2 linked regions of the Homo sapiens genome follow. The protein of the gene in region 1 purifies or fractionates together with the protein of each later gene. This does not show direct contact. Each region holds a gene or a part of one and is shown on either strand. Other genes may lie near its edges.

Region 1 (3,657 bases):
CCTCCTTGTTATCCCAAGAATCAATTTTCAGGCTGGCATTCGGGGTCCTGTTCATCTAGCCCTGGGCAACTGTGACATTCTTTTACACTGAAGCTTCCCTAAAGCTGTGGATATTAACAGCCGATCCATGTTTCAGTGTTGTCACACCCCCCTTAGCAAATTGTGTACTATTGATGTTTTTTTCAGTATTTCAGTCAACCTTTCTTTCTTTCCTTCTCTCCTTCTCTCTCTCTCTCTCTCTGTTGTCTAGGCTGGAGTGCAGTGGCGTAAACACCACTCACTGCAGACTCAACCTCCTGGGCTCAAGGGATCTTCCCACCTCAGCCTCTTGAGTAGCTGGAACTACAGGTGCATGCCACCATGCCCGGATAATTTTTTAACTTTTTTATAGAGATGAGGTCTCACTATGTTGCCCAGGCTGGTGTTGAACTCTTGGGCTTAAGTGATCCTCCCACCTTGGCCTCCTAAAGTGCTGGGATTTATAGGTGTGAGCCACTTCACCTGGCCTAACCTTTCAATTCAAAAAGGAAAAGATGTTGTATGACAACAAATTGCTCTCTTCATGGAATGTACTAGTAATTAAACTTTTAAATTTTTTGAATGAACCATAGGTTCTAAATAAATAACAACACCCCACCATTATGTTGCTACAAATGGAATACAGACCTCTATACTTTTTTTCTTTTCATTGTAATGTCTGTTTTTTCCAGTTTTTGAGGTATAATTTACATGCCACAAAATTTACCCATTTTTATGCACAATTTGATAAATTTTGGTGATGGTATTTAAATATCCATATAACCCCTGCCACAGTCATCATATAGAACTTCCAGGTGGGGCAGAGTGGCTTACGCCTGTAATACCAACACTCTGGGAGGCAGAGGCAGGAGCATTGATTGAGGCCAGGAGTTTGCGTCAAGCCTGGGCAACACAATGAGACCCCATCTCTACAAAAAATTAAAAATTTTAGGTGGGCATGGTGGCACATGCCTGTAGTCCCAGCTACTGGGAAGCTGAGGCGGGAGGATCGCCTGAGCCTGGGAAGTTGAGGAGGGCAGTGAGCTATGATCGCACCTCTGCACTCCAGCCTGGGCAACACAGCAAGACTCTGTCTCAAAAAGAAAAGAATTTCCATCCCCTAAAATGTTTCCTTGTGCCCTTTGCAGATGATCTGTGCCCACACGCTATAGTTTGATACCACCTGTAGTGAACACAGCAATATGTGTTCGCAAAATGAAAAGGGTGCAACATGTAAACAAAATGGAGAAAAGGCCAAAAAGTCAGTCAGGGAATGGAGGACTTGAGGTAGGAAAACTTGTGTGCAGGCCAGCAAAGGACGATGGCAATGAAGGCAGAGTTGAATAGCGCCCAGAGGAATGTGGGAGGCTGCTGCAGACACAGAAAGCAGTGATCCTCAATGGGAAGGAAAGACTGGAATCCCCTGGGGGGCTTTTCACAGCTGCCCCTCACCACTACTCCTCCAAGATTCTGATGTCATTCTTGAGTGTAGGAGGCTTTGAAATCTCTGCTGTAAGTGAGCTACCACTGTTAAGTGACAGATTTTTATGTTCCCTACATGTGTGGGAAGAGAAGTTTCAGAACCACTGCTTAGAAATAAGAAAACCCGCCATGCCACCCAAGCCTACTCTTTCTTTATTCATTCAATAAATATTTGAGAATTTGTTTGCCTGGGACTGTTTAGGCATTCAATATGTACTTCTTCTCAAAGTATATGCAGATTTAGTAAACCAGATAGTGTATTACTATATTTCACGAAATAAATCAAGGGCTTAGATAATTTGGAAAGATACTGAATTAAGTGGGAACATTTTGATTCTATATGGCAACTTTATAAAATATCTCATTTTGATATTATAGTTTGTAAAGCCCAGTACGGCAAACCATATTGAAATTTTTCATTAGTCTTTTCCTTAGTAAAGACTTACCAAATAGCTGTCATTTTAATATATCCTCTTCATATTTATAATAATTGATATTAATGGCTATTAATGTGTATGTCTATTAATATATACATGTATGTAGGTTTTTGGTTAATGTACATATATATGTTATTAAATACATATAGATATATATGGCTATTAATATACATGTCCTTGGGGTTCTATGATTATTCATGTATTTTAATCCATTAATTTTTATTTGAAATTAAAATGGCTGACTTTGCATATTTGTTTACCTTTTTGTGGCAATTCAAGCATTATTTAATCTGTATTGTTAATCTCTTTTAAAGCAAGAGGAAGAACAAGATAGAAAGGGTAGCCATACTGATTTGGAAAGCATTAATGAAAATTTAGTTGAAAGTGCATTGAGAAGAGTAAACAGAGAAGAAAAAGGTAAGTTATTCAAATTCTAATCATTTCTTAGGTGAGGAGTTGGGGAATACCAATTTTTATGTTACTAGGTCTCAGATATCATAAACAAGAGTACAAGCTGATATTTGTTTGCTTATCTAGTAACTTATTTAATGTTTTAGGAATATTTTATTTACCTACAACAAAAGAGAGAATAGCATTTATCAGTAAGAGTCATTAGAAAGAGCAGTATTTATTGTGCTATCCACCATAAAAAGCATAGCATACTGTGTGTATGTAAGTCCTCCCAGGGCTTCATTCTTGTATAATATAGAATATGTAACTATATACATATTATTTTTTTAACTCAGTCACTGTAATGGTTCGTTTTAATTTTTCATTTTGGATTTTTTTTTAAATTTCCTTTGCTACTTAGATTAGAAAGAACATTGATCTTTCAAACATAGATCTGAATATGAAAGAGAAAAGAAACACTTCCATATTTGTTAGAGTCTATGTGTGGACAGAGATGGATACATAATTTCACATGCTTGGCATTCCTTTTTCACACTTTAAAATCAGGTAATAAGTCAGTCCATCTGAGGAAAGCCAGTTCACCAAATCTTCATAGACGACAGTGGGAGAAAAATGTACCCAATACAGCTCTTACAGCTTTGGAAAATGCATCCATACTCACCTCCAGTTTAACAGCAGAGGACGATAGAGGTTAGTAGTCAGATTGAATACTATTATTTTATTAGAGAACTTTTTCTAATAGTTACTTAGTGCACTTAGAGCCTTTTAATGTCTGTGAAGGGTATTTGGCGTCACACATCAGAGCATTGCTCATACAGGTGAATGAAGCAGATTTTAGTTAACAGTCAAATATAACTAACTTCGCTTGAAAATATGATCTGGAAAGTACATGCTGAAAAATCTTTTTTTATTCAGCACTAATTTTTGTCTTTTTGCAACTAGGTGGTTCTGTAATAAAGTACAGCAAAAATACTACTCGTAAGCAGTGGCTCAAAGAGACCCCTGACACTTTGTTGAACATCCTTAAGAATGCTGATCTCAGCTTGGCTTTTCAAACATACACAATATATAGACCAGGTAATTCATGTCTGTATGTGACCTTGGAAACCCTTTGACTTTTTGAAAATTGTGGCAAATATATATAACATAAAATTTACATTTGAACCATTTTAAGGTGTACAGTTCAGTAGCACTAAGTACGTCACATTGTTGTACAGCCATCACCAGTTTCCATCCACAGAAATGTTCTCATCTTCCAAAACTCAATTCAAAGGGTTTCCCTCCTCCCAGAAACGCTTTGATTTCAAAG
Region 2 (3,657 bases), on another chromosome or scaffold:
GTTTTCATTGCTGAATAAATAATATTTCCATTGTATAAACATATCAAAATCCAAAATGTATTTTATCTATTTTACAGCATGTGGACATTTGGGTTATTTCTAGGGTGTTTTTTTGTTTTGTTTTGTTTTTCCAATTATAACAATGCTGCAACAGTCTTAGATTCATCTCCTGGGGTATATATTTAAGAATCTCTCCAGCCTATCACGGTGGTGTGAGCCTTTAGTCCCAGCGACTCAGAAGGCTGAGCTGGGAAGACTGCTTGAGTCCAGGAGTTCAAGGCTATGATCATACCTGTGAATAGCTGCTGGAGTGCAATAGGAGCAAGACTCCCATCAAAAAAACACAAAAAAGAATCTCTCCAAATTAGGATATATATTTAGGAATAAAATTACTGGGTTGTTGAATATGCATATGTTCATCTTTACTAGGTAATGTCAAATCATTTTTAGTAATAAACTACTTTTGAGATATCTCACACCTGATCATGATACAAGCGTTATTTTTTATTTTTAGCACATACACCAGCTTATAATTTGTTGAATGATTTAAAAAGGTTACAACGGAAACCAGTAAAATCTGGTTACTGATCACTAGCTAACATTGTACCAGTACATCTAAATTATATTAAGTGATTAATATGCCTTAGATACAGTAAAGGCTCAACAAATTTTGTTGAACAAACAAGTAAATGTTTAATAATTCTGCAATGAGTATATTAATTATAATTTTAAAAATAAAAGTAGTAAATGACTTAGCCCTTTCTATTTCCTCAAGAAAGAACAGTAATGAACTTAGTTTGGGATCTCCAGAGCCTCTTGTTTAACCTTTGTTTATATAGCTTAAATTTTATAAAGTCTCAAAGATGTCTAATTTTACCATTCCTATCTAGATACAAGGAAAAAGATGAGATTAGGCACCATTATTATACACTCTAATTGCACCAAGTACCTTTCCTTTGTAATACTTCCCACTGCTATAATTCTGTATTAATTTAGGAGAGTATTTGAGTGATGTTTTCCTTACTATATTACAAACTCCACAAGGTAGGGGCTACGTCTGTTTTTGCTCATTATTATACTCCCAGTATCCATTATGTGCTTTTAAAGCAGGTGCTTATATGTTGAATGAATAAGCAAATGATCTTTAATTTCTAGCAGTCTTCCACTGTTGACACTCTTGTACGTTAGTCTTAGCATTAAGTTTCTTTGTATTCCTAGATGTATATCTAATAATAAAGAATCTCTGGGAGTCTCTATTGAAAGAAACTCTGTGATAAATAGAAGAATTATTTTATTATGCAAATAATTACCACCAAATTACTCCTTTATGAAATCTGGGATTTCCTAAGAACCTACATGTTTAATTTTGCTGTAAGTGAAAGAAAATGGTGAGTAGAATGAAGATACCAAAGATTTGATGTTTGGAGACGTGCTCAAATTTGTGTGCCAGCACTTCCAGTAGTGGGACTTTGTGGGAAATACTCAACTTTTCTCAGCCTCAATCTCTTCATCTGATAAATGGAGTTTATTTATTGGAGTTGTTTTGTGGATTAAATGAAATGATCCATTTATAATGCTCCTAGTATACTATCATACATTAAGCACTTGGAAAACCTTTTCCTTGCCAATCTCTTAATATAAAGAAATTCAATAAATATGTAGTTTCTGTTGCATAACATCTCCCCAGCATACCTGCTACAACTGCTTATTTTGCAATATATAAGCCACAAAAGACTCAAATGATTTACCAGCTATTTTACTACTATGGACCACTAGGAAAATTTCACACACATATACTAAAGTCAAAAAGTCCTAGAGCTTTGAAATTTTTTCTGTCCTTTTAAAATTAAAGAAATAAGAGGCAAGGGCGGGGGGAAAAAAGAAGGAAAAAAGGTATCATATTCAAGAGTTGTATCCATTTCTGACTTAAAATCAAGCTTTGCTCAGAACATCATTCCCTTATCACCAGTTCTTAAGAGCATCAGAAAAAACTTGCCATCTCGAGAATCTCACATACTGCTTCCATCCCGCTTTGCTCAATCAATTCTAAGTTCCTGACTAACAGTGTCTCTTGTGCCGGGATTGGGGGGAAGAACAGATTATTCTCTAAGGCACTACAGATTAGTAGCTGATGATGAACAGGGCTAAAATCAGCACCTCTGCCCAACTGATGGTGTGGGCCTTCCCTTAAAAGAACACCCAGTGCATTACCGCTAGAGTTCTACAAATTAAAGCCAGATGAACGAAATGCTGCTAAAAGAAAGTTATGAAGCCAAAAAGAACAACGCTCCTCTCCCTCTCCCCTAAAAAATGTTTAAGAGAAATCTGACTGATTAATGGGTTAGTCCCCAGGTGCACTAATTTAAAAGATAAATAAACCAACAGCTTAAAGTTGCAAAATTCCTTACCAGCTAGCTATTCTTAAATATAAAATATTATTTAAAATATAAACAAACCTCTATAAGTTGTACTTAGACTTAAATGTAATCACTATAAATTTTTCTCTTTTTTTTTGAGACAGAGTCTCACTCTGTCACCCAGGCTGGAGTGCAGTGGCGCGATCTCGGCTCACTGCAAGCTCCACCTCCTGGGTTCACGCCATTCTCCTGCCTCAGCCTCCTGAGTAGCTGGGACTACAGGTGCCTGCCACCATGCCCGGCTAATTTTTTTTGTATTTTTAGTAGAGAAGGAATGGTTTCACCCTGTTGGCCAGGATGGTCTCGATCTCCTGACCTCGTGATCCGCCTGCCTCAGCCCCCCAAAGTGCTGGGATTACAGGCGTGAGGCACCGCGCCCGGCCTGTAATCATTATAAATTTTTTGTTAGAGAAAGCTTATTACAAAAAATTTGTTTACTTGTTTTTGTTAAATTTTTTATACATTTTGTGTTCTTGTTTTTGTCAAAAAAGCTGTCTTTATTTTATTTTATTTGTTGGTCTTGAACTCCTTGGCTCAAGTGATCTGTCTGCCTCAGCCTCTGAAAGTGCTGGGATTACAAGCGTGAGCCACTGTGCCCAGTCAGCTGCCCTTTTTTAAAAACCATAAAATAAATGGATAATAAAGGCTTCAGACAATGTAAGAAGATACAAAGAAAAAAATCACTGTTGAAATTTCATATTATACATTATAATTGAATTTCTAGGATACTGATTTAGTTTAGATGCACGTCAGTGGTTCTTACTCTGGGCAATTTTGCCTTCTTACTCCCAATTAATGCCCCAACATTTAGCAATGTCTAGAGGGTATTTTTGGTTGTCACAAATGGAGGGGTCATCCAGTGGTTAGAAGCCAGGGATGCTACAAAACATTCTACAATGCACAGCTTCCAACAAAGTATTAGCTTGCCCCAAATGTCAATAGTGCTCAGATTAAGCAGCCCTGGTCTACATGATCATGCAGTTGGATTATTCTACTAGTCTGTATGTCTAACTCTTGTCTCTTCCTCCCTTTCCAACAGCACCAGATAAATATTCCCAAAGTGGTGCTTTTATTACATAATTCCTCTGCTCAAAAACTCTTCTGCTCATATAATGGTTATTCATTACCAATGCACATTAAATCTAAATTTCTCATTGAGTAGCCAAAATATGTTACTCTTTGAATCCATGTTAGATGCTGTCCCTGAACATTTTATCCCCAGCCAAGAGTACTCCTTCAC

Evidence for each region. Proteins that work in one complex are often made in the same cells at the same time.
Region 2: the proteins of NEK3 (region 1) and CDC27 purify together in Homo sapiens (affinity purification with mass spectrometry, with the first as the bait; one large-scale study listed by BioGRID). This does not show direct contact.

What each region holds. Positions count from the first base shown.
Region 1 is NC_000013.11:52,135,497-52,139,153, reverse strand, and holds part of NEK3 (serine/threonine-protein kinase Nek3), read left to right. Parts: intron 1-2,251; coding exon 2,252-2,354; intron 2,355-2,894; coding exon 2,895-3,038; intron 3,039-3,290; coding exon 3,291-3,425; intron 3,426-3,657.
Region 2 is NC_000017.11:47,182,683-47,186,339, forward strand, and holds part of CDC27 (cell division cycle protein 27 homolog), read right to left. Parts: intron 1-3,657. UniProt on the Homo sapiens protein: Component of the anaphase promoting complex/cyclosome (APC/C), a cell cycle-regulated E3 ubiquitin ligase that controls progression through mitosis and the G1 phase of the cell cycle.